Linked DNA regions of Homo sapiens. The protein of the gene in region 1 purifies or fractionates together with the protein of each later gene. This does not show direct contact. Each region holds a gene or a part of one and is shown on either strand. Other genes may lie near its edges. The genes, in order: POLM and ACAD8.

Region 1 (7,482 bases):
GGTGGGGAGGCCTTGGGGCCTGGTGAGACAGCAGAGGGTGCTGTGGGGGTGGGTGAGGACAGACAGTCGTGGGTGCTGACACTGCTCCAAGGCCTCAACAAGCCACCCTCTGCGCTCAGATTCCTCCTGTGCACACTAGCCATTTACTCCTGGGTGGCCTAGAGGACCCAGTGAATGGCGCTGTGAGGGGCCTGGCAGGGCTAGGGGTGACACTGTTGTCATTGTCATTAGTCCCAAACTGCCCTCCACAGTGGAATGAAAGAGAGCACCCTGAGTGTGAGCATCTCTTTTCAGTGCCCCAGTGTGTTTAGTTGTCCTTTAGTGCACTTTCATTGCAAGAATACACAGTGACAGAAGATGCTTTTAAATGAAGTAGTATTGAGTTCACATGTTCTGAAAAGCAATTGTTTATGTATCTTGGGACTTATTTGACTGAGAGATGATCCACGTTACCTGGCATCTCAGCTGCTGTAACTCCAGGCCCGAAGGAGCTTTGAGGCTGGAGCCCTGACCTCCCAGCTGTGTGGCAGCAACTTTGGTCACCTCCCTGGGCACAGTCTCCATTTCCAGGTCCTACTGGACCCTGACCTCACAAAGTTGTCTCTGCCGGGTGTTGGAGGGGACTGCCTCAGTCCTTGGGCCCCCAGCCCTGACCCTAACTCCCCGCCCTTCTCTTTCTTCCCACGCCCTCAGGCTTAGAGTTCTGCTTTGTTCCCTCCCCCAGGAGCTGCTGGAGCATGGAGTGTGTGAGGAGGTGGAGAGAGTTCGGCGCTCAGAGAGGTACCAGACCATGAAGGTGCGCAGGGCAGGGCTCGGACCTACCCCAGGAATGTCCTGCCCTGGGAATGACAACACAGTCCACACCATGCACGGGGAGGCAAACAGGGGCAGCTGACCCAGCCCAGGGGTCAGAGAAGGTCTTGCCGAGGAAGTGGCAGCTAAGCTGATACCTGATATGCACAAGGCAGCCAAGTGGAGACAGGCAAGGAAGAAGCTTGTTTTGAGGACAGAATTTTCTAGATCACTCAGCACCATCTGGCTTTTGGGGCTTTTTGTTTTATTTTGTTTTTGAGACAGGGTCTCGCTCTGTCGCCCAGGCTGGAGTACAGTGGTGCGATCACAGCTCACGGCAGCCTTGACTTCCTGGGCTCAAACCATCCTCCCACCTCAGTCTCTGGAGTAGCTGGGACTACAGGCATGTGCCACCACACCAGGTTAATTTTTAAATCTTTCTCGTAAAGATGGGGTCTTGGTAATGTTGCCTAAGCTGGTCTCAAACCCCTATGCTCAAATGATTCTCCTGCCTTGGTCCCCAAAATGCTGGGATTATAGGCATGAGCCACTTCGCTCTGCCTTGACTGTTTTTGATGGAATATTCTCAAGTAGATTACATGCTGTGGCATCTTAAACAGAGCACTGTGAACCAAATGTACCCTTGGGTGCTGCCACTGAGCATGCTGGGCTTGCCCTTGCCCGCCTTCTGCAGGACCTTATGTGTTATTTTCTCAGTGTTGTCAGCCTGCCTGTTTCCATGGCCACCTTCCCTCTGTTTCTGCTCACTCCTGGTCTGATAGGGAAATGCCGTCTGAGTTCTTTTGGATGCCTCGGGTGTGCCTGCTTTGACACCCTTCTGCCAACTGGCTTTGTGGCTGGAGGTGTCACAGCGGTGGCCACATGGATAACTGTCAGTGAAGTGTGGCTTCCTGGGTGGATGGGGCCTTGGGAGGTCACACAGAATGTTGTCAGGATTGACAGGGAGGGCTTCGAAGAGGAGAGACTTGAGCAGTGTGTGCAGGGCAAATGGGCTCAAATATGCAGGGAAGGGGGCAAGGGGCACTGGCAGGGACAGGGGACCAGATGAGTGGGGCCACCGTGGTGAGTGTGGGAGTGAGGGGCCTGAAGATGATGAAATCCCCTTGAAGTGGTGTGAGGTTAGTGAGTACTTTCACTGTCAGCCTCAGCCCCAGCCCTGAAGGCATCTAGGCTGGCAGAAAATTACATTAGTAATGAGAAGTTTATTAACAATATAATTGGGTTAATCTCATCATTTTTAGTCAGGATTCTTTGGGTTGCAAGTGACAGTGACCCACCCCACACCGTTGGTTCACAAAATAAAGGAAAGGAGGGCCAGCAGAGCCCAGGATGGGGAGGGCTGTGGCCGGTCTGCAGGACAACTGGGCTCAGCGACCTGGGTATCACCAGGCCACTCCTCCTCCCCTCTGCCCCTCTGCACGGTGGCTTCGCCCTCTCTTGCGACGCACCAGCTTCTTCCATCGGTTGGAAATGTGGCCACAAAAGGTGCTCGGCTGCCACAGGCTACAGCTTCTGCCACTGTGTGGGCCTGCCCTCAGTCTCAGATCCAGAATTCCTAGGGAGGGACTCTAGTGGCTGACCTGAAGCAGGTGACTTGCTTGGGCTGGGGCCCACCCTCTGTGGGAAGATATGTGAGCACCCCAGCCAGCCCTGCCAACTCTGCTCCTAAATCCACCCTTTTGATTGTTAACTCCTCATTGTTTTTTGCTGTTGGCTAAGGAGGAGAACCACAGAAATTTGTTCCACCTTCTGTTAGGTGGGAGAGGCATGGTTTTTCCAGTGACTTAGGAGCCCCTCGTGCTGATGTGTTAGGGTGACTGTTTTGATTATGTTGGAATCACAGGCTAGAGCTGTGTAAGTCCCTTTCATAGAGGAGAGGAGAGGGGTGTGCGTGGGTTTGTTCCCAGAGACGGCAGGCTGGGTAGTCAGGCTCCAGGTTTGAATCCTTGCCCTGTGGTCTACGGCAGGTTGCGAGTGGGGACGGCGCCTGCCTGGTGCATGGTGCTCCATGGGCCACACCGTCCCGGAGCGGGTGATCATCCGAGTCTAGCCATGAGAGCTCTGCCCAACCGGGCTACGCTCCTTCCCCACAGCTCTTCACCCAGATCTTCGGGGTCGGTGTGAAGACTGCTGACCGGTGGTACCGGGAAGGACTGCGAACCTTAGATGACCTCCGAGAGCAGCCCCAGAAACTAACCCAACAGCAGAAAGCGGGTGAGCCCTCCAGAGAGGCTGGGCCCTGGGCTTCCCTAAACTGCACCCTGGATCCCTCAGCATCAACTCCCTAGAGGGAAGGGAGCAGTCTGGTGCAGAGGGTTTGGTGGCAGCTTTGTGTGGTGGGCTTCCTGGGGTCTCCACCCAGTGCAGTCAGGATCTATCAAAGCCTTTTCTCAGTGGACGATGCTGACCACAGCAACTTCCATGATATGCCAGGGGCTTGTGTCTGCCTACTGGTTAGACTTTGACCAGTGACCAGGGACAGCCTGGGCCTTGGGCACACTGCCCAGTGTGGTGCTTGGTACATGGAGGCCTGCAGAGGTGGCACTGAGCAGCAGAAAGAACATCAGCTTTCAAGTTTGTTAGGCCTGGGTTTGAGTCTTATCTACCATTTGCCAGGTAGGTGACCATTGCCCAAGAAATAACCTCTCTGAGTCTGTTACATTTTCTGTAAAATGGAGAAGGAAGGCTGGGCATGGTGACTCACACCTGTAATCCCAGCACTTTGGGAGGTCAAGGTGGGTAGATCGCTTGAGCTCAGCAGTTCAAGACCAGTCTGGGCAACAGGGTGAAACCCTGTCTCTACGAGAAATACAAGAGTTAGCCAGGCGTGATGGTGGATGCCCGTAGTACCAGCTACTCATGAGGCCGAGGTACAAGGATCGCTCGAGCCCGGGAGGTCAAGCCTTGAGGCCAAGGTGGAAGTTGCAATGAGCTGAGATTGAGCCACTGCACTCCAGCCTGAGTGACAGAGCAAGACCCTATCTCAAAAAAAAAAAAAAAAAAAGGTGGGAAGGAATGAATTCGTAGGCTCCCCTGTGAGAGCCGGCAAGTGGCAGGTGTTGAGCAGATACTCTGTTCTCTCTGCATGGCCTGCCTGGCTACTCTGGCCACACCATCTGGGACCTCCCTTGGGTTGAGGGCTCTGCTGAAGCAATCCCCACAGCCCAGCAGGCACTGCCAGCTCCACTGCCTCTTCGCACATCTTCCCCCGGGCCACTGCCCAGTTCAGCTGACAGGAGGTGAGACCCGCAGAGCTGGTTCCTCTTGATCGCCTCTCCCCATGGCAAGAGTAGTCAGGAATGGTTAGCAGCGTTTACTGAGAGCTCACTGTGCCAGGTGCTGCTGTTCCTCACATTTAAACCTCTCCTTAGCTGGGTGCCATGACTCACATCTTTATGTAGTCCCAGCACTTTGAGAGGCCGAGGCGGGTGGATCACCTGAGGTTAGGAGTTCAAGACCAGCCTGGCCAACGTGGCGAAACCCTGTCTCTACTAAAAATAAAAAATTAGCTGGGTGTGGTGGCAGACACCCGTAATCTCAGCTACTCGGGAGGCTGAGGCAGGAGAATCACTTGAACCTGGGAGGTGGAGGTTGCAGTAAGCTCAGATTGCGCCACTGCCCTCCAACCTGGGCAACAAGAGCGAGACTCCATCTCAAATAAATAAATAAACCTCTCCTTAACTGCGTGTGGGAGGCTGATAGGTGAGGAAACAGAAGTAGGCCAGAGTGAGGTGTTCGTCATGGCAAAGCCATCTTCCATCCTTTTACCACCTCTTGGTCCCACTTTATGCATAAGGAAAAACAGCCATCAAAAGAGATAGCCTGTGGCATGACTGTATCAACATCAGTATCCTTATATTTGGTTGCAAAATTATAGTTTTGTAAGGGGTTAACCTTTTGGGGGAGCTGGGTAAAAGGCACATGGGATCTCCCTCTGTGCTATTTCTTTTAACTGCGAGTGAATCTACAACTGTCTCAAAATAAAAGTTTAAAATTTAAAGGGGGAGAGAAGATAGTGTCAGGCTTAGATTGGGATCTCACTCTGCTCCCTGCCCTAGCCTCACCTTCCTCGGAGGCCTCTCCTGGTCCTGCAATGACGGGGCCCCAGGTTGATCACCTCATGCTGGTGAGGGATGGGGGCTCGGTGTGGTGGGCAGGCTGGGTGAGTCAGGAGGGCCGGTGTTGCCCCCAGGGCTCCAGCACCACCAGGACCTGAGCACCCCAGTCCTGCGGTCCGATGTAGATGCCCTGCAGCAGGTGGTGGAGGAAGCTGTGGGGCAGGCCCTGCCTGGGGCCACCGTCACGCTGACCGGCGGCTTCCGCAGGTAAGAAGGCCCGACGTGCCCCTCTGGCTTGGCTTCAGACCCCTCCCCAGTGAAGGGACCTGAGTCGGGGACCCTGAAGCGGGCCCACTCGTTGGAAGGGATGTGGCCTGGGGCTGGAGTGAGCAGGCCGTGTCCCTGAGTCAGAGTCAGACTGACGCCCTCAGGGGGAAGTTGCAGGGCCATGACGTGGACTTCCTCATCACCCACCCCAAGGAGGGTCAGGAGGCGGGGCTGCTGCCTAGAGTGATGTGCCGCCTGCAGGACCAGGTGAGGGCCTCCCTGCTCCCCAAGAGCCACCGCTGGCCAATGCCACTGCCTCCTGCTCTCTCCACACCACCGGATGGTCTCAGCCACGCCCGCCTCTCCCCACAGGGCCTCATCCTGTACCACCAGCACCAGCACAGCTGCTGTGAGTCCCCTACCCGCCTGGCCCAACAGAGCCACATGGACGCTTTTGAGAGAAGTTTCTGCATTTTCCGCCTACCACAACCTCCAGGGGCTGCTGTGGGGGGATCCACGAGGCCCTGCCCATCCTGGAAGGCCGTGAGAGTGGACTTGGTAGTTGCACCCGTCAGCCAGTTCCCTTTCGCCCTGCTCGGTTGGACTGGCTCCAAGGTAGGCAGTGTGCCGCTGGGCCGCCTGGGGGTGGGGCTGGGCCAGCCCTGCTGAGGACAATCCCTTCCCTACAGCTTTTCCAGCGGGAGCTGCGCCGCTTCAGCCGGAAGGAGAAGGGCCTGTGGCTGAACAGCCATGGGCTGTTTGACCCGGAGCAGGTACATTGTTGGGGACTGGGGACAGCAAACAGCACCCATAGTCCGCTCCCTGACCCACAATCTGAAATGGCCCCAGACCCCTCCAGCCTGAAACCCATAGGACCCGAATCTGGGTCTCCACACACAGTTCCTGGCCCTCAAGAGCACACCCCACCTCGGCGCTGGGCTCTTCCCCACCCTCAGTCTTCCTGCAGGGAAGCAGCAGTGGCAAGACTCCTAGGTCACGGAAGTCCTGCTTCTGTTGCAGAAGACATTTTTCCAAGCGGCTTCAGAGGAAGACATCTTCAGACACCTGGGCCTTGAGTACCTTCCTCCAGAGCAGAGAAACGCCTGAGCCTGCCTGTGTCCCCCACTTCCACTCAGGAAATTGGGCTGCCCCCAACCTGGCCACTGAATGTCTCCAGGCAGATATGCTGCCCCCTGACCCCCACCTTCACCCCTCCCCGCCAAGGCCTGGCTCTTCCGGAGGTCAATTGTGCCTGCAGGATCAGTTGAGCCCCTGCTGGTGTGCTGCAGGGTGTGATGAGGTGGGAGCCCTCAGTGCCAGCCTCATCACTGTGTGACCCTGGGTCTGCTCTTAGCCTCCCCATGGCTCACGTTCCTGCCCTGGATGGGATGTGAGTGGGGCCCACATCGTGGAGCTGTGGTGGGGCCTGCAGTCATGAATGGCAAGTGGTCCCTGATGTGCAGTGTCTCATTAGTTGCACTGCAGTTAACTGTGGCTCCTGCAGGGCACCCTGCCCAGAATGCCCAGAAGAGAACCATGCATACCTGCACTGCATTTGAGAGCCATGAGCTGGAGGCTGTGGTTCGTGCCAGCAAGGAGCCTACTGTCTGGTGTGCTGTAGGCATCTGGAGAGGGAGAGGGCCTGGGTAGGAGCTGGGAGGAAGATAATTTTCAACTATGGGGCTTCAGTACTGCAGCGCCCCGAGCCAGGCTCTGTGCTTCTGCCTTTAAGGCCTGTTCTCAGCACAATGTCTCAAAAATAGGTCATATCCTGCCACTCCCGTCGCAGAGCCCTTTAATGGTTCCAAACCCTAAGTCCACACATAGCCCCTGGCTCTGGCATCTCTCCAGCCCCACTGGCCCCGAGCTGCTTGACTCACCGGCTTCCTATTTGATGCACCCAGGCCCCCTTGTGGCCAACTCCCTCCCCTTCTCACTGAGGCAGAAGCACTGAGGTGGGCTGGACATGGGTGCCCTCCACGTCCCTCATATCCCCAGGCACACTCTGGCCTCAGGTTTTGCCCTGGCCATGTCATCTACCTGGAGTGGGCCCTCCCCTTCTTCAGGCCTTGAATCAAAAGCCACTTTGTTAGGCGAGGATTTCCCAGACCACTCATCACATTAAAAAATATTTTGAAAACATGCAGTAAAGTTGACTCTTGGGGTGCAGTTTTTGCACACGTAGGGCACACCAGGTCCATCCCCAGAACACTTCCCATGCTGTCCTATTGTGGTCATGTGCTTCTCCACCCCCACCCACTTAGCGGTGCTACATCCCTATAGTTTTGCTTTCTCTAGAATGTCATGTAAATAGAACCAAACTATATTTAACCTTTGGACTGGC
Region 2 (8,406 bases), on another chromosome or scaffold:
GATATTTTATTGAAAAAAGTACACAAAAACCACTGAGGTACACAAGCCCAGGTAAGCATACCAAGCAAGCCCCCTCACACCTTTTGTCTGAAAAAAGCTTGACTTCTTTGCAGCAATGTCTCGCCCATTCCAGCAGCAGTATCTCAGTTAACTTGGTTCCTTTTCCTCCAGGCTCAAAACAAAATCAAACTCTTCTACAAAAAAAAAAGGGAAAAAGGAAGGATTAGTTTTTAATGTCCCCTCTTGAACAGGAAAGTTGTGCCAGGCACAGGTACATCTTACATGGTACTAAGGCGAGCAGTCATTCGTTCAAAACTATTTACCAGGTGCCAAGCACTATAGAGTACTGGGTAATAGTAACAGGTAACTCTGGCCACATTCCCTCCCTCATGGGTGTTACAGGTGAGGATGCTGACTGAGAAAGGTGAAGTACCATGCCCAAGTTTAATCAGCTAGTAAGTGGGAATTCATGAGGTCATTCTGGTATATGGACAATAAAGGAGAGGGCCCACTCTTACCCTGGGTCAGGGGCTGGATTGATAATCTCTGGCGAGTGAAGAGAACCATATTTTTTAAGGGGCCACCAGTAGCTTTGTGAGCTTGATGATAGGATTTGAGCTCAGCCAGGGGAATGAAACGTTTCATCATCCGAACAAACTGTACATCCACCTATGTGACAACAGTGTACATGACAGAAAGACGTGTCTAGGCTGACTGTGCCCACTGTATTTTTAACCGCCCACAGGAAGCTCCTATCTCAGTATCACCTCATCTGAGTAAGTGCTGGGCCGTGTACCTTGACCTACAGTCACCCCAACCGTCTTCTTCCCCTGGTTCATCCTTCCCCTGTCATGAAATAGAAAGCATAGTCTTTACCATGGACCACTTAGGGTTGTCCTCTTTGCTAGATGGGTCATAATGGGGATTGTTTTTCTCAAACTGTGTGTGGTCTGGGTAAGCCTCTTTCACGATCTGAAACCAAAACAAAAGCTTTGAATCATCTGCCTGCAGTCAGCTCCACAGCCAATCTTTTAATCCATATCCAACTTTCATTTCTTCCCTGCACATTCTTAACCCATCTGCCTTGCTGTACAGCCAATGGGGGCTCAGATATTTGGAAACAATATATAGTCTAATATATAGACTAGGAAATCAACTCTGTTTTTACAAAAGTCTTAAAAACATGCTCTAAAAACAAATGGCAAAGGTTATTACTGGTACCACTGTTTTTTTCCCCTCTGCACAGTTAATAATTTTATCCTGATAAGCTTGGAGGAGCTATCATCAGGCCTGTTTTCGAGTGAGATCAAGACTTAGAGGTGGAGTGAAGTCTGTGCTAGTCGGACCTGAATGAAGGCCTGCTTTGAGTTATCAGATAGGAAGGGGCCAGGGCAGTTTTTCCCTATTCCTGTAAAAGGGGGATGGGGTGGGGGGGAGTGTACTTTTTTGTTGCCTAATTAAGGTATATCCCTTTATATCTACTTAAGTTAGTCTCCCTGGAGGAAAAGGGATTCACACCAAAACCTGCCCAACTAACCTTCATGAGTCCTGCGATGCCTGGCTCTTTGCAGTTGCTATGGTAGAAGAAGGCTTCTTCTCCCAGCTTCATGGCTCTAAGGAAGTTCCGAGCCTGTCCCGGGAGAAGAAAGAGTAACTATCCTCCCACCAGCTGGAAAGTACTAGCTTTTAGCAGAAATCAAGTCTGCTTTTAATAGATGGGTGATTCTTGTCTGCAACTCCTCAATTCATTAGAAAGTCCTTCCCCTTTGCCAGGACACCCAGACTTTTACCAGGACATTGGCCAGAACACAGGCCAATTGAAAATTTCATGCAGAGTACTTAAGGCATTTTTTAATACATTATCAGGTTTGCTTCTGAGAAAAAGCAACCTTGGCCAAGAGGTTCTGCTACTGAGTACGTCATGAGGAGGAGGCAGGCATTCATCCCACCTGGGTCTCAGGCGACCTCCTCCTTACCCTCTTACCTGGTAGTTACGAACACCATCCCAGCATGTTGTCTGTTTGGGCTGTGCTTTGAGATCCTCAATGCTGAACTAGGCAAGAGGAAATAAATTCAATCATTAAACAATCCTTGGCCAGTTAGTAAGCACATATGGAAGCAGACAGTTCCTTCCCCTAAAATGAGAGGGGCCACTGGCTATAGAGGAAGTATGTAGTTCACCGGGAAGTGGCTCCACAGAGACACTTTTGCTGGGTGAATGTAAGTAAGCCTTGTGTTACCTTGTTATCCTTGCTAATTATGAGGATTAGCTGAATGAATAATCTAGGTGATAAAGTAATCTGCTAGTTACTTGCATTTTACTTTATATTTATAATAGTTCTGCTTATATTTTTCCCAGGCTATATTAAATTCCCTGAAATATACATCAACTGTTGGCAGGGAGACACCTAGGAGCATGGCAGGTGTTCAGAGAAAGGTAACCTAAGATTGAGGTTGGCAGACTATAGCCTTCAGGACAAATCTAACCCCATGCTGGATTTTGTGAATAAAGTTGAACTTGAACACAGCCACAGCTGTTTACTTATTATCTGTGGCCACTCTCTTGCTACAAGGGCAGGGTTGCAACAGAGACTGTAACACGCACAAGCCTACAAAATTTACTATCTGGCCCTTTGTGGCAAAGGTTAGCCAACCCCTGCCCTAGATACACAGGTTCACAAACCAGCTGATGATAATAAACCCTGCCGATTTTATTCATTTTTACCTTTTTCCTTCCCTTCAAAGATAAGAAGCTGGGGATGGAACCCTATGGTGTCCCATATTCACTTCTCATTTAAAAAACACCATGAAGGGACTGGAGACAGGTCAAGGGTCTCACCTTCACATCTACACCTTTCTCTAGGCGGCTCTCTGGCTCTGACTTCATCAGCCAGTGGCTGCTTAGATTCTTCAAACAGTTTTTAGTGGCTGAAGTCTTCTGAGGGTTGGAGTCCTCCACTTTAGCTAATGCCTCACCTGAGTTCTCAGTTTTGGTGCGTTTTCCTGATAGTCCCTTGTCTGCAATAGGAGAAGCAAAAAGAAAAGATCATGCTTGTTAAAGGCAATGTTTCATAATGGAAAAAGCTTAGCTTTGGAGTCAGACCTGGATTCAAATCATGGATCCATTACCAGCTGTAGGAACTTAATCTTACTGTTAAGAAGCTTTCCTTATCTATAAAAATTAGACAAGAATACCTACCTTACAGGGTATCTTCTGGATTATCTATTCAATAGGGTAAGAACACCTTACAGGGTTGTTCAGGATTAAAGGTCCGGACAGTAGTCAATACATGTTTTCCTTTCCTCACTCTCTCTTCTATGCCTTTGCATAGGAAAGAGGAAACTGAGCACCTACTTGCAACTATTTTGAAGCTTAAATGAGGTAATACAAAGGGCCTAGACAATGCCTGGCATTACAATAAGTGCATAATAAAAGCATTATTATTCTCATCTCATACGTCTTTCCTTCTTGCTCACTGTGGCTCCTGGCCCATCTCCTTTCTGCTCCTTGAAGGTGCCAATAAAAGTTGAAAGAAACAGTTCATTCAGGACATTGTAGAAAAATGGTGATGATTCGATTTCATCCCAAGACAATCAGAATGTGCCTGGAACACAGTAGGCATTCAGTAGCTAAGTTGTTAAATTACTATATGACAGGGCCCAAGGTCTATGTGTTACCCTAACCCTAACTCGGTTAATCTACATAACCTGTGAGATGTTCTACTCTTCATCTGGGAAGCATGCTCCAGATCACACATCCAGTAATGGTGGAATCAAGATATGAGGTCAGCACCTGTCACTGAGGTCTATCTGAAGCTACTTAATGACTATACTGCCTCTGAATTTAGTCAAAGTCCCTACATCAATTGTCATTAAATACCATTTATGGCTGTCTAATGCTCTGAACCCAGCATACCTTCCTAACCTAGTTTCCTAATGGCCCCTTAGGAGTTAACAGGCCCACTGCAAACACCACATATTGATAAATAACTGCAATGTGCTGTAGTATATCTGGAACCCCTGTCATTCCCAAAAGAGGTACTTTCTGTACCTTCCAATGTTCCTCCTCCTCCATCCACTTAGAATGCCATCCATCTTTGTGATTATAAAAACGACATCACGTTTTCTTAGTACTAAACTTTGCCCGTGGAAAGTCTCCCATTCTTCAAGGCTGGGCTCAAATTCCACATCCTTCTCGAGGCCTTCCCCGTGATTCCTCCCTCCATAAACTTAACAATCCATTTTCCTGAACCCCATCACATCTGTTTGCAGTTCACCCGCAAGCAGGCGCTTTATATTCTTTAGCACGCCACCTGGTATCTCAAAGAGTCTTTGTGCACAACAACCATTGCCTGAATAAACAAGAAAAAGGAACTGTAGGTAGGAGCTTGGTGAGACAAGTAAAGAAGATGGAGAGTGATTAAGGATAATGGAGTAAAAATATCACAAAGGGTTCTCAAAAAGCAGGGAGTGAAAAATGAGTACTAAACAGGCTCTTCGAGAAAAGTTTTTTCTTGGGCTGCCTTTGTGCAGCCTAGGGGCAGCTCACCTGAACCAGAAGTCCCAGCCAGCCTCTTCCGGGGTCTCGACATGGTCACGCTGCAGGGGACTTTAGTGCGGACGATTCTGGAATCAACGGAGATACAAGAAAGAATGCTAATGTCCTCCAAAACCCGCGCAGAGCGAGATGGAGGCAACGAGAGGCAGCCTAGAACGTCTCCAACTTTTGCGAAACACAGACGCCTACGTTTGAGCCCTCAAATCCTTCCCTCCGTTATCTGCGCCATTTCCATCTCGCATAACCTGCCCCTAAACTCTTCTCGGTTCTGTCCTTGGTCCTTCTCATCCAGGAACCCCTATCTCAGTATGTAGTTCACTGGGAAGTGGCTCCACAGAGACACTTTTGTTGGGTGAATATAAGTAAGCCTTGTGTTACCTTGTTATCCTTGCTAATTAGGATCAACTGAATGGATAATCTAGATGATGAAGTAATTTGCTGGCTACAGACCCAACACTCTGCAGACTCGACTGCGGTCCGCCTCCGCTGCGCCGCAGGCTGTGCAGCGCGACCCCCGCGGCGCTTGGTGGGCGGTGCATCTCTGCGGCGCCGAGGCCCCGAGGACTTCTGGGAATTGTAGTCCTGTCCCCTTGGGAGCCCGCCTGGCACCTGGGTTGTTAGGGCTCGTGGGAGGACTACAACCCCCAGGGTGCAGTGGGACAGGCGTTGCCGGGTCGCAGGTCCCGCCAGTGCGAGCGCAACGGAGGTCGAAGGCGTTCAGACTCTTAGCTGAACGCGGAGCTGCGGCGGCTATGCTGTGGAGCGGCTGCCGGCGTTTCGGGGCGCGCCTCGGCTGCCTGCCCGGCGGTCTCCGGGTCCTCGTCCAGACCGGCCACCGGAGCTTGACCTCCTGCATCGACCGTAAGGATCTCCTGGCGGGCAGTAGGACAGGTGTCCAGAACCCCGGCGGACATATGTCCGCGAGGGGCTGCAGTCTCCCCGTTCCATCCAGTCACCCCGGCGTCAGCTCCCCTTCCGGCCAGTCACCCCCCCGGCCTGGCTCCCTACTCCGGCCGGTCACCCCCGGCCTGGCTGCCCCCTCCGGTCGGTCACCACCATCCGGGTCCCCATCTGGCCCGTCACCCCTGCCCGGGTCCTCCTCCGGCCGGTCACCCCCGCCCCGGTCCTCCTCCGGCCGGTCACCCCCGCCCCGGTCCTCCTCCGGCCGGTCACCCCCCGCAGGTTCCCCTCCGGCCGGTCATCCCCCCGCAGGTTCCCCTCCGGCCCGGGTCCTCCTGCGGCCGGTCACCCTCGGATGCTTAGAGAAGTGAAGAAACTTGGGGCTTGGTTGTTGTTGGGTTGGTTGGTTTTTAATCATAACAGTAGGTCATAAAAGCAGTGAGAATATAAGAAGCTGGCTGGGTGCTGATGGTGACAACTGCACAAGAACTCCAGGTCATACAAGATTTGCTCACACACAAAGATTTGGTATCTTAACACCTCTGGCTATAAGACACTTTTAGTGTTGAAACTCATGCAGGAAAAATAATTATTATTGCCAGTGGGAAACTCTACCAGAGCTGACAAACTTGAGTGTCTTTAGGCTCTGAACAGTAATTTGAATGTAGCGAGGAGTGGTGGAGACCCGGCCAGTTTGTGACTTCTCTGCCAAGAATGTTTATAAACACTTTTTTCTTCTGAAATATTTTTAAATTTATTTTAAATAAATGGCAGTTTTCTTTACAACAGAATAAGTCCCTTAGATATCAGATCTATAAAGTACAGTAAGGCATAGAATACTGTTTTCTTCTGAATGTCCTAAAACTCATTCAAGAGGTGCTGCCCTGGCCTAGCGCTTAGAATTTGATAACCCAGATTACCCTGGTTGATACCGAAGCAGATAAGGAATTATTTAGAGGTGGGTTTTGTTATTGTTTGCATCTTGCTTACACTTGAGTGGCTCTGCAGTCAAAGGCTTTTCCCATTTCATTTGGAGTGTTTTTCTATTTAGCTTTACCTTTTTAGTGTATATGTATTGGCATCTTGAGCTCTGCTAGTAACTATGTATTGGCATCTTGAACTCTGCTAGTAACTGGCAAAGTTCATGAGTGGTGGTATTTGTTTTGTTTTTATACTGTATTTCCTTCTGGGAACTTGTGTTTACTTATGCATATGATTTGCATAAAACTATTTCCTTCCATTAGAATGCAACTCAGATTTATTTCTTAAGCCTGTGGTTCCTTGAACTATTTGTTTTAGGAAGTAGCCATTTACAGAAGAAGAAGATTTGTTAACATTTAATGAGCTCTTGCTAGGATTGAAATAGTCATCCTTTGTGTGAATGGATCTTATTTATTTATTTTTTTGAGATGGAGTCTCTTTCTGTTGCCCAGGCTGGAGTACAGTGGTGCGATCTCAACTCACCGCAACCTCTGCCCCACGGGTTCAAGCAATTCTTGTGCCTCAGCCTCCCAAGTAGCTGGGATTACAGCACATGCCACCATGCCCAGCTAATTTTTATATTTTTAGTAGAGACGGGGTTTCACCATGTTGGACAAGCTGGACTTGAACTCCTGACCTCAAGTGATCCACCTGCCTTGGCCTCCCCAAAGTCTGGGATTACAGGCATGAGCCACTGCGCCTGGCTGGATCATATTTATTTTTGTAACCCCAGCACTGCTACCTAGTAAACACCCAATAAACATTCTTTTGGAAATGATCTTTGAGCCATGGTCTACAGTAACAGCAACCCTTGTACAAAATTGTGTGAATAAATGGCCTGACCCCAGTCAGAGAACCATGAATTGTTTATCCCTAACTCTGTTCCTGAGGGTAATACCCAACATAGGTTTCTGCTCTGAGTTTCTCAAGGCAGCCTAATCGTTAATCCTCAGAACTCTTCATTTCTGACTTTCCCATTTTAATGAGAGTACTGATCACAGAAAGCAGTGCCCTCTCCAGGCTCGCATAGCCAGCCATTACTGATGCCCAGATTTGCCCCAAGGAACAGACTCTGGCACCTGCCCTTGTGTTCTTCTGTGAGGACTGCATCGCTTGTAGGCACTGAAGTAAATTATTGCCAAGTGTGGCGCCATAGTCTTCCCATAGTGCTCTTTTTTCTTTTTTTCTTCTTTTGAAACAGAGTCTTGCTCTGTCACCCAGGCTAGAGTGCAATGGCACAATCTCAGCTCACTGCAACCTCTGCCTCCTGGGTTCAAGCGATTCTCCTGTCTCACCCTCCCAAAGTAGCTGGGATTACAGGCATGCGCCACCACACCCAGCTAATTTTTGTATTTTTAGTAGAGGCGGGGTTTTTCCATGTTGGTCAGGCTGGTCTTGAGCTCCTGACCTCAGGTGATCTGCCCGCCTCGGCCTCCTGAAGTGCTGGGATTATAGGCGTGAACCATCACGCCCAGCCCATAGTGCTCTTCAGTGTCAGTTATAATGACCAAAGTTCTAGCACTGTGGCCTCAACCTCTAGGTCTACAACTGCATTTTACTAAGTGCTAGGATAAGAGATGTCTGGAAGTCCCCTATCCTGTTCTAGGTTGATCTGGATGTGTGCTAGAACTGTCCTTTCTCCATATGACAAGTGGAATAACGACAGAAGCTGCCATTCTCTAGCTGTTAAAGGCTATACCGTGTATGGGAAATACTACAGTAGATCCACTTTCACAACTTCGTGGTGCTTCTTGTTGGCAACACCTTGTTGGCAACACTGACCCTGTCCTAGAACAGTATATGCAATCCTGCCCACAGCTTCCATGGGACTTAATGAAGAGCAGAAAGAATTTCAAAAAGTGGCCTTTGACTTTGCTGCCCGAGAGATGGCTCCAAATATGGCAGAGTGGGACCAGAAGGTAGGCGTTTTTCTTGTGCTTAGACGTTCTAACAACAGATGTCTCAGG

Evidence for each region.
Region 2: the proteins of POLM (region 1) and ACAD8 purify together in Homo sapiens (affinity purification with mass spectrometry; 2 studies listed by BioGRID and IntAct, with this or other methods). This does not show direct contact.

What each region holds. Positions count from the first base shown.
Region 1 is NC_000007.14:44,072,054-44,079,535, reverse strand, and holds the end of POLM (DNA-directed DNA/RNA polymerase mu), read left to right. Parts: intron 1-724; coding exon 725-796; intron 797-2,906; coding exon 2,907-3,027; intron 3,028-5,005; coding exon 5,006-5,138; intron 5,139-5,302; coding exon 5,303-5,405; intron 5,406-5,510; coding exon 5,511-5,753; intron 5,754-5,827; coding exon 5,828-5,911; intron 5,912-6,102; exon of another isoform or gene 6,103-6,105; coding exon of another isoform or gene 6,106-6,158; coding exon 6,159-6,245; coding exon of another isoform or gene 6,246-6,474; 3' UTR 6,475-7,474; downstream 7,475-7,482. UniProt on the Homo sapiens protein: Gap-filling polymerase involved in repair of DNA double-strand breaks by non-homologous end joining (NHEJ). Participates in immunoglobulin (Ig) light chain gene rearrangement in V(D)J recombination.
Region 2 is NC_000011.10:134,248,291-134,256,696, forward strand, and holds the start of ACAD8 (isobutyryl-CoA dehydrogenase, mitochondrial), read left to right. Parts: upstream 1-5,277; 5' UTR 5,278-5,310; coding exon 5,311-5,419; intron 5,420-8,257; coding exon 8,258-8,358; intron 8,359-8,406. Other genes in the region: THYN1 (thymocyte nuclear protein 1), read right to left, coding at 148-194, 519-669, 877-972, 1,538-1,630, 1,985-2,053, 2,840-3,018, 4,550-4,592.